4 linked regions of the Homo sapiens genome follow. The protein of the gene in region 2 purifies or fractionates together with the protein of the main gene of each other region. This does not show direct contact. Each region holds a gene or a part of one and is shown on either strand. Other genes may lie near its edges.

Region 1 (3,358 bases), on a different chromosome or scaffold from region 2:
GTGCCCTTCCTGGTCCCCCACAGACCCCAGATCAGTATGGCAACACTCCCGCATGGCTGGAGAAGCAGTCGGAGTGGGTGGGGGAGGGGAGGGGTGTCCAGGATGCCCAGCTTCAGGACCAGGAGCCCCATCAGCCCGCCTCAGCCTCCATTCATTCCTCTCTTCCCCAGAATGCTTGTCACTTTTGTTAGCATCTCACAGAGATTTTGATCTTGGAGCATTTTGGACTCCTTTTTAACTGGGGTAGAGTTTAGAGGCTGGGCAGAGATGCTGGGGATCTGTGTTATTTACAAAGGGAACTAATGTGGAACCTTGGTATCAAGATATGCCCAGGGCCTGAGTAGGGCCTGTCCCAGGACTCACAGGCAGACACATGGTCACAGAATGCCAGTAGCCCAGAAGAAAACAGTAAAGAAACAAAGAAAACAAAATAGGTCACCATTTGAAGCCCTCTCCTAAGCCTAAGGGGTGAAGGCCATGTTTTCAGGCTCAGCCCCGCATCTCTCCCCTAACCCCTTTTCTTTAAAGGGACAGGGTCTCCCTCTATTACCCAGACTAGAGCACAGTGGCATGATCACAGCTCACTACAGCCTCACCCTCCTGGGCTCAAGGGATCCTCCTGCCTCAGCCTCCCAAGTAGCTCAGACTATAGGTGTGTGCCACCACACCCAGCTAATATTTTTTCTAGCAATGGTGTCTTGCTCTATTGCCCAGGCTGGTCTCAGACACTTGGACTTAAGTTATCCTCCCACCTCTGAAAACGCTAGGATTATAGGTGTGAACCATATGCACCCAGCCTCCATCTCTTGTTATATGCATTCTTGTGGCTGGTGGTCGGGGGAGGGGTGGGGGAGGGACAAGGAGCAGAACCGTGGTAAAAGGAGGCAAGGGACGAGGCAAAGAGGCAGAGCCAGAAAGTTCCTCATTTTATACATAAGGCATTGGGGCTGGAGGAAGAGATTTTTTGAGCAGAGCAAGAAGACTGGAGCAGAAGGGAGGAAGGACAAGAGGCTGTGATGTGATCTCTAGTTTTGTTTAACCGTGTTCCTTGTCTTCCATATTCCAGATGTTTTGAGGAACACTCAAAACACCTGGTCCTGTTGGGGCCATCAATCCTAGCACAAAATAGGCCAGGTGCGGTGGCTCACGCCTGTAATCCCAGCACTTTGGGAGGCTGAGGCAGACGGATCACATGAGGTCAGGAGTTCAAGACCAGCCTGGCCAACATGGAGAAACCCTGTCTCTGCTAAAAACACAAAATTAGCCGGGCGTGGTGGTGTGCACCTGTAACCCCAGCTACTCAGGAGGCAGAGGCAGGAGAATCGCTGGAACCCGGGAGGCAGAGGCTGCAGCGAGCCAAGATCGCACCACTGCACTCCAGCCTGGGCAACAGAGCGAGTCTCCATCTCAAAAAAAAAAAAAAAAAAAAAAATTCCTAGCACAAGACCTAAGCCAGTCTGTCTGAATATGTGATGCTATTGGACCTGGAAAACAGTGAGCACTGGGCATGTCACCCGAGCAGAGCAGCGTGTCTTCACTGGCTGACGTATCATGGTAGACGAAAGACAGTCTTTTAGCTCTAGGGCTGCAAAGCTGGAAAGAGTAGACTCTAGGGCTGCCACTGGCCATCTTTCTACTTTGTGAAAAGATCTTGCCTGCAGACTGAGGCCAAAAAAAGATACACAGGGCTAAGGCGTGGGCACAGAGCCCTGGTATGTATGTGTACATACATACATACATACATATATATATATATATATATATATATATTTTTTTTTTTTTTTTTTTTTTTTGAGATGGAGTCTTGCTCTGTCACCCAGGCTAGAGTGCAGTGGCACGATCTTGGCTCACTGCAACCTCTGCCTCCAGGGTTCAAGCGATTCCCTTGCCTCAGCCTCCTGAGTAGCTGGGACTACAGACGTGCACCACCACGCCCGGCTAATTTTTTGTATCTCAGTAGAGACAGGGTTTCACCATGTTGGCCAGGATGGACTCGATCTCTTGACCCTGTGATCCACCCTCCTCGGCCTCCCGAAGTGCTGGGATTGAGCCCTGATATTTTTGAGACTCTGGATCTAAGCATGGTTGAGGCTAGAACTCCAATTTCTTAGTCTTTCCAGTTATATAAGCAAATACATTCTTTTTGCTTAAGCTACTTTTTTTCCCTTTTTTTTTGCTTAAGCTACTTTGATAGAGTTTTAGTCACTTGCCACTTATGAGAGTTATGATTAATATGGGCTATAGAGGAGGGAGATTAGATTTGTTCTAGATGATCCCAGAATTAAGACTAAGGTCTAAAGATGGAAGTCACAGCAAGGGAGACTGCAGTGTGAATCAAGACCTTGATAATGACAGGAGCTGTCCAGAAAGAATGGGAATGTTAGGAGGGAGTGTCTTCTCTGTTGCTGGATGTAGTAGAGCAGGGGTCTGCAATCTTTTACTTAGAGGGCCAGATTGTAAATATTTTAGTTTCTGCAGGCCATATGGTCCCTGTCGCAACTACTCAACTCTGCCATTGTAGTGTGAAAGCAGCCATGGACAGATATGTTAATGAATGACCATGGCTGTGTTCCAATAAAAATTTATAGAAACAGGCCTGCTGGCCCACGCGGGCTGCAGTTTGCTGACCCCTGAGCTAGAGAATCATCTGTTGAGACTGTTAGAGAAGAGGGGCACAGTCACCAGACTGGAGGTAGGGGTACAGCACTACACTAAATGATCCTTCCAGTCTTTTCCAACTTGACTGTTTTTGGGAAACGGCATTCCCAGCTTCGATCAACTGACCTACAACTCTATTTTGCAAATACGCCTGACTGCCACAGAGGACTGCTTGCTTCTGGGCTCTGGAGACCCAAAGTACAGCAGGTCAGAGTAAGTCTTGAGTATTAGTTTTGGAGGTGAGGGGCCCAACAGGGCTCCTCCAAATTCCTCTCAATGGCTCATCTGGTTTGTGTATCATGAATGAATCTAGTAAAACTGTCGTGGGGACATCTGTATTCTTGCCCACGTCTCTCTCTCGGGACAATGAGCTCTGTGAGTTGCCCTAGTCAGGTAAGCCTGGCTCCCTCTTATTATTGGGCCACACTTTACCTATGTGGGGTCACAGAGTTAGGAGGGCTCCGAGGTGCCTGTGAAAAACTTTCCCATCCTCTCCTTACTCTGCAGGATTGAACAGTACTTGCGTGAAGAAGAGAACACCTGCAGAGACAGGATACCTGCAGCCCTAAATTTGGGTTCTACTATTTAGACTATTTCAGCATTTTGTGCTTTTATCTTTATTAACTCCTTTCTACTTTTCTTCTTTCATGTTACTCTTATCTTTTCCTTTTTCTCAAGGTGTTATTAGTCCCTCTTATTT
Region 2 (3,837 bases):
TGCCATCTGCTACCCGTAATATTTCTTGACTTTTAGATTGGCTTCTTCTCTATAGTATTTGATTATCGCTAGAACTGCTGGCCCATAGTAGGCACTGAGTTAATATTTTTGAATGATTGAATATTATTGCTGTTACGTCTTACATAGTTGCAGCACAGCAGTGAAAAGTAGGGAGTGTGTGGTTTCTATTTCATATTTGTTTTTTTCAGACTGAACTTTCACTGCTCCTCTCAGAAAGAATTGAAGCTTTAGTTCTGGAAAGCATATCTGGTTTCTTGATGATGCTAAAAAATTCTTTTTTTTTTCTTATTAGAGGTATTAGGCTAATTATTATTTAATCCTTAAAATATTTCTTTTATTATTTTTTATTTTATTATTATTAGACTTTAAGTTTTAGGGTATATGTGCACAATGTGCAGGTTAGTTACATATGTATGCATGTGCCATGCTGGTGTGCTGTACCCATTAACTCGTCATTTAGCATTAGGTATATCTCCTAAAGCTATCCCTCCCCCTCCCCCCACCCCACAACAGTCCCCAGAGTGTGATGTTCCCCTTCCTGTGTCCATGTGTTCTCATTGTTCAATTCCCACCTATGAGTGAGAATATGCAGTGTTTGGTTTTTTGTTCTTGCGATAGTTTACTGAGAATGATGATTTCCAGTTTCATCCATGTCCCTACAGAGGACATGAACTCATCATTTTTTATGGCTGCATAGTATTCCATGGTGTATATGTGCCCCATTTTCTTAATCCAATCTATCATTGTTGGACATTTGGGTTGGTTCCAAGTCTTTGCTATTGTGAATAGTGCCGCAATAAAAAATTCTTAAAACATTTAGAAAGTATGCTGATGTGGCAGCCCAAAGTGGTATTAACTCTGATGGGCCATGGACCTAATGCTTTTATATTTAGAAGTATAATAATCATTGTAGAAATAGAAATATTTGACTCAAGTTAAGAAGGCAAATTAAAATTATGCCATTTTTGTTATGTTTATGACTATGTCATGCTTACTTAAATAAACCCATTATACCATCTACCTGATTAAAACAGAAAATTTTGTTTAAATAGGTAATATATTACAAGTAGCCAAATTTAATGTTGAGCCACTGACTAGATTCTAGGGAGAATGCTATGGATTCTGACTAAACAGACTGGTTTGAAAGTTGTATATCAGAATCACTTGGAATGCATATGCTAATTTATATAGATTTGTATACACTAAATTTTGCTGCTGTTAATAATTACGAAGAATTAGATGCCTGCATAAGCAAGAGACAAAACTAAATATAAGCTGACAAAATTTTAAAAGTCAATTAACCTTCATATTAAATGGCACCAGGCTAGATTTTAAATGGTCTCAATAATCAAGTGGAATAGTTTTTTTACTGATTAGTTTCACCTTAATAATTTAGACTCAGATAAAGTGAAAAACTAGGATTAGCTCAAATAGTGACATGGCACTTAAACAACAGGTTAGGTGAAGCCATTCTGCAGAGTAGTTAAGAATGAGTACAGACAGACCTCAGTTAAGAGTCTAGATTCTACCACTAACTAGCTACATAACCATGCCCAGATTACTTCACAGTACTCCTTGTAAGGATCAAGTGAGCTATTACAGATAAAATTCTTAGGCTAGTATGGGGCATAGAGAAAGCACTTAGTAAATATTAGACACTGTTAGGAACCATGTAAAAGCCTTTGGGTTTCTCCTAAAGAAAGTAATTTTTCTCTATTGAAGAGAAAAGGAAGCATGGAAAGGGTGAAGCAATCCTAACGTGTGCTGTAAATAGAGATATCTATATTCACATGTATAGATATAAAAATATACCTCACTCATGTATGTATTAATATATACACACAAAAAATGCCTAGTTTGTCTTGTTTGTATATTTTACTGAGAGAAATAATTTTTAGTAAATTTAATGTACTAGTAATATAATACTGTAAGTGTCTCTGCATACCTTTACTAAGCATATGTAGAAGTCATAATCTAGATTTTTTTATTTTTAAAGTCTTATTTGACATTAATTTAAATAAGAGGAATATACTTTGAAGAATAATTTATTTGAATTTTTATCATTATATGACTGTTTTATTATGCCAACTTAAAAGATGTTCTTTGTCTTCTAGGTAAATTGGTGGATTTAACTGGAGAATATAAATACATGTACATGTCCTGTGGGGCTATTGTGGTAGCAGCAAGCGTGTGGCTGCTCATTGGCAATGCTATCAACTATAGATTGCTTGCAAAGGAAAGGAAGGAGGAAAATGCAAGGCAGAAGACCAGAGAATCTGAACCCTTGAGCAAATCTAAACATTCGGAAGATGTTAACGTCAAAGTTTCAAATGCACAGAGTGTAACCTCAGAAAGAGAAACTAACATTTAACAAGAATCACATCTCTGATTTCAGTGTTTATGACTTTATCTAGGAGTTTGTTTTTCATTTTGTTTTTTTAAAGTATTAGAAAAGGTTTTAGCTGAAATGAGGAGTCACAATTAAGGATGGAGGTGATATTTTCCTCAATGGCAAATTTTAAATTAGTTTTTAAAAACTTACTTATTTGGGTAGTTAAATTTTGAGATTATGCATAGAAAGAATCCATGCTATAGGTTTATTTCCATACCTGACTCTGGGTGTGGTGGTTAAAATACTAATTTTAAAGTCTTCCAGTGACTTTCGGTCTTGGTTATATGGAGAATTCTGAATCCCAAACCCCTGGTTTAAGTAGGTAGAAGGAGGATGCCTAATCCTACAAAGTGACCCTTTATACATTTCATTTTTTATTTGATATTAAAGTATGAGATAGAGTTGAGAGACAATTAATTATCCCCTCTTACACACAAACACACATACTCCCACATACTTACCCACATGTACACAGAGTATCTGGAGAATAAAACCCAAATTCAAAAAAAAAAATGATAATTTATTTTTAAGGTAAAAATAATCCATGAAGATAAAAGAAACATATGTCTGCGTGCTACTTTACAATGTTGGTTTTAAAGATAAGCACATGGGTAAAAATGAGGGTGATCCTTATTCAAAAATAACATCTGACTACTATAAAAATATTTGCATATATAAGTTTGACAAAGAAAAGAAAATCAATGTTAAACCATTAAATCTGAGCACTGTTAGACTTGATTAATCCATGCACATGATTTTTTTTGAGTAGGGAGCATTAGTACCTGGTGCTAGAGAATAGAACCCTCAAATAATTTTTAGAATTCTTACCTAATATGTAAAAGTCTGCATGACTCTTAACAATGAGTCACATCCATTGATTTTACAGGGATTTTAGTTCGTAATCCAGAAAGTAATAATCAGGGATTTTATTTTAATCAGGCATCAATCCAGATTCACTGTTATACTGAAATATCAAAGTAAAATCCTAGTTGGCAGGATTGTAAGTAGACCGAATTCTAATTTTTCCCAACACATAGTGGTAATTGGAGGTTACTGTTATGAATACTCCATCTGACTACGACTAAGAGAGTGAGGGGTGGTTTTAATGAACCCTCTAAGCTCTCTCAGTTCCTTCCCTTCCACAAAATGCAAGAGCAAAAGCAAACTACAAACAGGCCTTGTGCTCAACCACTGGAAATGCCTCCTGGGATAAGAATGGCAGCACTTGAAAATTCTGCCCTCTACTGATGAGACTTCCTGCTGCCTTTGGACATAACTAAGCCAGGAAACTTTAAAAGCCTTCTAGAAATAGAGGCACTGTATGACTTGCAATCGTAGGTATAGTTTATAACCTGATAGCAAAAAACTTGAAATATTGCAGCCCAGTTTAATTCAGCACTTTCCCATTTTCATAACTATGTGAA
Region 3 (3,837 bases), on a different chromosome or scaffold from region 2:
CAGGTTCAAGCAATTTTCCTGCCTAAGCCTCTGGCCGCCACCACACCTGGCTAATTTTTTTTTTTTTTTTTTTTTTTTTGTATTTTTAGTAGAGACAGGGTTTCACCATGTTGGCCAGTCTGGTCTCGAACTCCTGACCTCATGATCCGCCTGCCTCGGCCTCCCAAAGTGCTGGGATTACAGGCGTGAGCCACTGCACCCCACCACATTTTGGACTTTTTTTTTTTTTTTTTGAGACGGAGTCTCGCTCTGTCATCAGGCTACAATGCAGTGGCATGATCTCGGCTCTCTGCAACCTCCACCTCACAGGTTCAAGCGATTCTCCTACCTCAGCCTTCCGAGTAGCTGGTACTACAGGCGTGTGCTACCATGCCCAGCTAATTTTTTATATTTTTTTAGTAGAGACAGGGTTTCACCATGTTGGCCAGGATGGTCTCGATCTCTTGACCTTGTGATCAGCCCGCCTCGGCCTCCCAAAGTGCCGAGATTACAGGCGTGAGCCACCGTGCCCAGCCCACATCTTGGACTCTTAACAAAAATGCTGAAAAACCTGCACTGTGCTTGGCATAGGGCTGTGCTAGAGATTCAAAGATGAATCATGCAGGGTTCCAATCGTCAGCTCACCACCGAGTCCTGGAGTTACGCCACCACAAAGGCAGACAGTCTGGGGAGTAGGGGGTGTTGGCTGCTGACCCAGGACACCCAGCCCAGGATGGGGGCTGGCGCTGGTCCTGGACTGGCAATGAGCAGGTTCATAGGCAGGAAGTGGCGGAGAGCACAAAGTGGTGGCTGGAGACAGGCAGGATGGGGGCTCAAGGAGGTCGTATGCCCTGTTCCCCTAGAGCCCATGTGTGGACTGATCTTGCGGAGATTTTTGGCCCTGGTGTTCTACATACCTGTCTTCCTGTTTCACCAGGGCCCTTGTTTGCTAGTTACTGTCCCCGGCCCATGAGGTGCTGGCCTCCAGCAGAACCTCTCAGCCAGTCTCAGGGGCTTCCTGTGTGTCTCCCTGAGGCCGGCCCTTTTGGCTTCCTTCCCCCAGGGACTGCTGTGCGCCACTGTGATGAGCACAGGGGGTGGCTCCCCCCAAACCTCTTCAACTGCACGTCCATCACCTTCTCAGAACTGAAGGGCTTCGTAAGTGAACCCCCTCATCTCCATCTTTTCCCTGTCCTTCGTCCTGAGTCTCACTTGCCCCCACTCCCATCTTTGAGAACGGGGCTTCTGGAATTCCAGCCTGTGTGTTCCTGGGCTCCCAGCTGGAGAGGCCGTCTCTCACCTCCTGAGGTCCTTTTGCTCCAGAGTTCCTGCCCTCACTCCTGCTCCTCCGCTCCGTCCTGTCTAGGCTGAGCGGCTACAGCGGAATGAGTCAGGCCTAGACTCAGGGCGCTCCCAGCAGCTAGCCCTGCTCCTGCGCAACGCCACGCAGCACACAGCTGGCTACTTCGGCAGCGACGTCAAGGTGGCCTACCAGCTGGCCACGCGGCTGCTGGCCCACGAGAGCACCCAGCGGGGCTTTGGGCTGTCTGCCACACAGGACGTGCACTTCACTGAGGTGGGGCTTGGAGGATGCAGGGCTGGCTGGTTAGATAGGGGTCATGGTGAGTGAGCCTGCTCATGGCAACCTGGGGGGCAGAGGGGGCCCTCCCATCCCACCTACAAGGAGCTCCCTGCTGGCAGGAGGCCTCCATGAAACCCTGTGACCCCTGGCCCAGCCCTCTTCCCAACCCTTCTCATAGTAACATATGTGTGTTGGGGCATGGTCTGACCCAGAGCAGAGGCCTGCCTGTGGTACCATGGGCTGGGAGGAAGCAGTATCTCAGGACATGTGTGTGGGTCCAGGCACAGGGCTGGGAAGCTCTTATGTAGAGAATGAGGAGGAGGGCTTAGGGGCAGAGCATCCAGTGACCTGAGTGGGCAGTGCGGTCCAGGAGCATTTCAGGGGAGGCAACAGTGAGCACAGAGGGAGGGGCCTGGTGGGGAGCAGGGACTGGCCCGGGCACAGGCCGGGGCTCCATGGTGGGGATGTCAGGTGTGGGTTGTGAGCACACCCACCGTGACCTTGCCCACCCCAGAATCTGCTGCGGGTGGGCAGCGCCCTCCTGGACACAGCCAACAAGCGGCACTGGGAGCTGATCCAGCAGACAGAGGGTGGCACCGCCTGGCTGCTCCAGCACTATGAGGCCTACGCCAGTGCCCTGGCCCAGAACATGCGGCACACCTACCTAAGCCCCTTCACCATCGTCACGCCCAACATTGGTAAGGCTGGTGCCTGGGTTGGGGAGGGGTTTGTGGAGGGAGTCCCCGACAAGAGCGGCTGTGCTGGGGTCCTGCCTGCCTCACAGGTCCGATCTGTGACCATCCCCTTCCTTAGTCATCTCCGTAGTGCGCTTGGACAAAGGGAACTTTGCTGGGGCCAAGCTGCCCCGCTACGAGGCCCTGCGTGGGGAGCAGCCCCCGGACCTTGAGACAACAGTCATTCTGCCTGAGTCTGTCTTCAGAGGTCAGTGGTGGCCATGGATTGAGTTGGGAGCTGGACCCCAGTGTCTGTGCAGACTCCACAGAGAGCAGGGCCCAGCTAAGTGTGACAGTGTCCCCTCCCAGAGACGCCCCCCGTGGTCAGGCCCGCAGGCCCCGGAGAGGCCCAGGAGCCAGAGGAGCTGGCACGGCGACAGCGACGGCACCCGGAGCTGAGCCAGGGTGAGGCTGTGGCCAGCGTCATCATCTACCGCACCCTGGCCGGGCTACTGCCTCATAACTATGACCCTGACAAGCGCAGCTTGAGGTCAGCAGCTAGGGGACAGGTGTGGGTAGGGGTATGGGTCGGGCGGTGAGTGCTGAGGCATGGAGGGGGTCGGGGGCGTCTCCCCAGTCATGTGACTGCCGTGGTGACTGTGCACCTGACTGCCCCACATCAGAGTCCCCAAACGCCCGATCATCAACACACCCGTGGTGAGCATCAGCGTCCATGATGATGAGGAGCTTCTGCCCCGGGCCCTGGACAAACCCGTCACGGTGCAGTTCCGCCTGCTGGAGACAGAGGAGCGGACCAAGCCCATCTGTGTCTTCTGGAACCATTCAATCCTGTGAGCCTGCACTGCCCTCGCCCCCTCAGGCTTCGGGCTGAAAGTCCAGGCCCCTGCATGCCTCACCCTCCTTGTCTCCCTGACCCTGCCTTCCTCACACAGGGTCAGTGGCACAGGTGGCTGGTCGGCCAGAGGCTGTGAAGTCGTCTTCCGCAATGAGAGCCACGTCAGCTGCCAGTGCAACCACATGACGAGCTTCGCTGTGCTCATGGACGTTTCTCGGCGGGAGGTCGGGCCCACAGGGGCAGCTGCAGAGCCGTGGGTGGGCACCCAGGGCACGGGGCTGGGTGCTCAGGTCCTGCCCTTCCTAATTCCCTGGCCCCCTGCCACCTACTCTGCAGAATGGGGAGATCCTGCCACTGAAGACACTGACATACGTGGCTCTAGGTGTCACCTTGGCTGCCCTTCTGCTCACCTTCTTCTTCCTCACTCTCTTGCGTATCCTGCGCTCCAACCAACACGGCATCCGACGTAACCTGACAGCTGCCCTGGGCCTGGCTCAGCTGGTCTTCCTCCTGGGAATCAACCAGGCTGACCTCCCTGTAAGATGCTCCTACTGCCCAGAAACTGTCCCCACCTTCTCAGGCCGCCTCCCCAGCCCCCACTGGCAACCCCTGCTCCTGCACCATGAACTCTAATAAGGTGCCTAGTGCAGCACCTGGCCCAGGGTTTCCTCTTCTGTGGCTCCCCCGGGATCCCCCAGCACCTGCCTCTGGCCCAGGCTTCCCTGGAAGCAGTTCCCAACACCCAG
Region 4 (3,837 bases), on a different chromosome or scaffold from region 2:
GCCTCACTGGATTTTCCAGACGCCCCTCACAGAGTGGACACAGTCAATGTCCCCATTTCACAGAGGTAACCCGATGCTATGAACAGTGAAGCCACTTGTCCCGGTGCCCCAGCCTGAGCGGCAGAGCAGGGACTGGCCGGGCCTGACTGGCGGGCGTCCCCACACGCGCTGCACTGTTCATGTTTCTGTTGCGCCCTCTGCCTGCTTTGTGTATTTCCTGGTAGGGAAAAGGCGATCGGATTTCTCCCCAGCACTTTGCCTGCGGATATTTTTTCAACACGAAACATTCCATGAGTCCCCACATCTCGACTGGCTCCTCCCACAAGGACGCCTGCCTCAGTTCCCTACACACAGGCCACGGCGACTCACCAACGGATCCCTTAGGGCATGGCACCGCAGCCGGCTGCCCGAACTTGGTCTGTGGCCACCAGATGCCGGCCTCAAATGCTTTGGGACAGCCATTGTAGATCACTGGGGTAGAGAAGAGAGAAGTCTGCTCAGCGGGGCACGCCACACCCACGACCACAAACAGGCACCACTGTCTGCATGCGCCTCCCTGCAGGAGGCCCTGCTCCCACCAAGAACCGAACCCTAGCATCTCCCCTGCCCCCATCCATGTCAGAGCTGGAGAGGGGTGACCAGGCTCTGACCCACACCCCCTCACGCAGAACCAGGTTTCTAGAAGGTCAAGAGAACTCAGAACACGAGGGAGCCCAGGGTCCCCCAAACACCCAGCGTGCATGCACACACGTGCACGCCAGTGCAGCAGCCTGTCCCCGCGCTGTAACCTGCAGGGTGTCGAGGGGCAACGCGGACCTTCACAGCCGAGCGTGGTGACCTCGGCAAACGGGTTGTCGCAGCGGTTGCACTGGCGGCCGATGACGCCGGGCTTGCAGGCACACTGCCCGGTGGCCATGTCGCAAGTGCGGCTGTGGGAGCCATGGGGGAAGCAGTCGCAGGGCAGACAGGTGTCCTGGGCTAGGAGCTTGTAGTAATTCTCCTGCAAAAGCCAGAGGCAGGGCCTGTGACTTCAGATGCCCGGGAGAGGCCCTACCTTGCAGCGTGTTTCCCGAGCGACGTCCAGACTCCCACCCGGGTGTGTGTGTTGGCCGCCAGCCATCCCACCCCTCATGGCTACCCTCTGCCCACATCCCACACCCAACGGGGGCTGCCTCCCAAGGCCCCACAAGGCCGGACCCAGGAGAGCAGTTCTTCCGGGAAGCACGCCCTCCCTCATGTCTTAACAAGTCTCAACAGTGGGCACCTTCGTATTTGTCCTAAAAAGAATCAGAGATCCAAATGGAGGCTTACGTATGGGGATAGCCCTTGGGCGTTTTTTTAAAGTTGTTTTGAAAAATTAGAAGCCACCTGAACGTCCACCATTGGGTGGGTCAGGGTGACAATCAAGAGCTTGTACTTCGGGTTCAGAAAGTCCTGGGTTCATGCCTGACCCTTGCCGTTTACCAGCTACATTGCCTGGGCTGGTCACCGGGACTCCCCAGGCCCAAGTAGCACCCCCTCAACCCCGCCCCGGAAAACGGGGCAGGCTGTGACCAGGCTGTGACTTGGGCAGACTCGTGAGCAACGTTCAGACCTGTGTGTCAGGTGGGGACTCCGACTGTGTGTAAAATGACAGTGAACGACAGGCCCAGAAGAGATGCTAAAACACTAACAATCACAGCTGGGAGGCGCATGGGGTGACTGCGATCTTTATGGGTTTTTATTACATTTTGTATAACTTTGTTTTTTTATTTTTTTGAGATGGGGTCTCACTGTGTTGCCCAGTCTGGAGTGCAGTGGTGCAGTCACAGCTCACTGCAGCCTCAACCTCCAGGGCTCAAGTGATCCTCCCACCTCAGCCTCCTGAGTAGCTGGGATCACAGGCAAGCATCAGCACGCTCAGCTAATGTTTTTATTTTTTGTAGAAATGGGAGTCTCACTATGTTGCCCAGGCTGGTCTTGAACTCCTGGGCTCAAGTAATCCCTCCTGCCTCGGCCTCCAGAGTAGCTGTGATTACAGGCATGAGCCACCACGCCCTGCCTATAACTTTGGATGAGAAAAAAATCGTAGGCAAGTTTTCGCCAATGCACTCCCCATGTTCTCTCTGCTCTGCCACCCACTATGCCACCACCGCCATCTGGTGACGTGTGGACCGACCCTGACCCAGGAGAGCTGTTTAATTTGAGCCTTTCAGGACACAAGTCCCATTTGCTGTTGGAACCACCGCAGGCACTGGGGGGGGACACTACTGACATCACGAGATGGCATCCAAGGGTGCCCTGGTACCAGCTTCCCTCCTAGGGCCAGCCGCATCTGCAGGAAGCTCACGTCCCTCGCCCAGGCTCCTGTTACCCTCAGACCTAACATTTGGGTTTCAAGTCACTGTGAGCGCCATGGCCGTGGTGTACACGAAGATCCTGAAGGAGGTGATGTATCCTGAGAGGGCTGGGGAGGGGTCCCTAGAGTCTGCACTGAGAACGCGTGTGCATTTCTGGAGACACGAGATGTGAGCTCCGTGCTGCATGCAGGTTAGGACTGACCGCCCTGGACAGGCGTGGGGCATAACGCACTTAGTGACACTTTCTATTTTAAAACTGCTGTCATCATGGGACACCAGCTTGGTAAAGACCAGGAAAATGGCCAGGCACGGTGGCTCACGCCTGTAATCCCAGCACTCTGGGAGGCTGAGGCGGGCGGATCACCTGAGGTCAGGAGTTCAAGACCAGCCTGGCCAACATGGTGAAATCCTGTCTCTACTAAAAATACAAAAATTAGCTGGGCATGGTGGTGGGCGCCTATAATCCCAGCTACTCAGGAGGCTGAGGCAGAAGAATTGCTGGAACCCGGGAGGCGGAGGCTGCAGTGAGCCGAGATCGCACCACTGCACTCCAGCCTGGGCGACACAGCGAGACTCTGTCTCAAAAAAAAAAAAAAAAAGACCAGGAAAATGGCCAACCAGGAGGCCAGGAGGGCCGGGGTGGTGCCATAGATGAGCCAGCCCTCAGAAACGGGTGGGCTTCCCACAGCCATGGGCAGTAGGCCGGGAGGAGGCAGGGATTCCTGTTCCACGGGCGGGGGCTGGCAGGGCTGAACCCGTAGTTTACACGTGGAAAGCAGCCATGGAGTATTCACAGAGCACGGGGGAGCAGCAAGGAAACCAAAAACCACATCTGTACACAAATGTGATGTGAGTGGGCACAGGTGTGTGTGCAGGGGTGTGAGTGTGTACCGACAGGGTATGTGAAGGCGTGTGTGTATTTAGGGGCAGCTGTGCATGTGTGTGAGCAAACACAGCATGCAGGGATCATGGGGGCGGGGCCTCACCTTGCATTGGCACTGGCCGTTGGTCTTATTACAGTCGGGATCAAAGCCTTTGCTGACGGCACAGTGGCAGGGTCCACAGACGGGGTTCCCCCACCAGCCTCTGGGGCACGGAAGGTCGAGTCTGTGGGGAAAATAAGAGGGCAGCTGGAAGGTTTATGTAACTGTGCTTTCTGGAATGAGAAGAGGCCTGCAGGCAGCATGGAGATGGTTGCCCAGGAGGCCTGGCTGGGTCCAGCTCTGGGAGCTTCCCCTTCCACGTTACATGGCCTCAGTCTCCCCTCTACCGGCTCCCAACCTCACCCCCCACCCACAGATCCACCATGCCCAAAGCGACTGGGATGACATCTCTGTCCACCGTGTGCCCCACGTCCACATGATGCCTGACTCATTGGGGCTTAATGACAATGAACCCCCACTGCAAGGCTGGCCTTTCACGATGCAGCCCCAGGCAGACTGAGCTCAGCTGCCTGGCACAACTTCTCAAAGTGGTCTTGGGGTGAATGCCAGCATGA

Evidence for each region. Proteins that work in one complex are often made in the same cells at the same time.
Region 1: the proteins of SLC16A7 (region 2) and TM9SF4 purify together in Homo sapiens (affinity purification with mass spectrometry; one large-scale study listed by BioGRID and IntAct). This does not show direct contact.
Region 3: the proteins of SLC16A7 (region 2) and CELSR2 purify together in Homo sapiens (affinity purification with mass spectrometry; one large-scale study listed by BioGRID and IntAct). This does not show direct contact.
Region 4: the proteins of SLC16A7 (region 2) and CELSR1 purify together in Homo sapiens (affinity purification with mass spectrometry; one large-scale study listed by BioGRID and IntAct). This does not show direct contact.

The regions. Positions count from the first base shown.
Region 1 is NC_000020.11:32,161,681-32,165,038, reverse strand, and holds part of TM9SF4 (transmembrane 9 superfamily member 4 isoform 1 precursor), read right to left. Parts: intron 1-3,358. UniProt on the Homo sapiens protein: Associates with proteins harboring glycine-rich transmembrane domains and ensures their efficient localization to the cell surface.
Region 2 is NC_000012.12:59,777,288-59,781,124, forward strand, and holds part of SLC16A7 (monocarboxylate transporter 2), read left to right. Parts: intron 1-2,135; coding exon 2,136-2,392; 3' UTR 2,393-3,837. UniProt on the Homo sapiens protein: Proton-coupled monocarboxylate symporter. Catalyzes the rapid transport across the plasma membrane of monocarboxylates such as L-lactate, pyruvate and ketone bodies, acetoacetate, beta-hydroxybutyrate and acetate.
Region 3 is NC_000001.11:109,266,506-109,270,342, forward strand, and holds part of CELSR2 (cadherin EGF LAG seven-pass G-type receptor 2 precursor), read left to right. Parts: intron 1-1,042; coding exon 1,043-1,137; intron 1,138-1,345; coding exon 1,346-1,555; intron 1,556-2,075; coding exon 2,076-2,259; intron 2,260-2,374; coding exon 2,375-2,503; intron 2,504-2,604; coding exon 2,605-2,785; intron 2,786-2,918; coding exon 2,919-3,086; intron 3,087-3,188; coding exon 3,189-3,315; intron 3,316-3,427; coding exon 3,428-3,628; intron 3,629-3,837. UniProt on the Homo sapiens protein: Receptor that may have an important role in cell/cell signaling during nervous system formation.
Region 4 is NC_000022.11:46,390,817-46,394,653, forward strand, and holds part of CELSR1 (cadherin EGF LAG seven-pass G-type receptor 1 isoform 1 precursor), read right to left. Parts: intron 3,447-3,837; coding exon 3,326-3,446; intron 1,001-3,325; coding exon 817-1,000; intron 472-816; coding exon 370-471; intron 260-369; coding exon of another isoform or gene 27-259; exon of another isoform or gene 1-26. UniProt on the Homo sapiens protein: Receptor that may have an important role in cell/cell signaling during nervous system formation.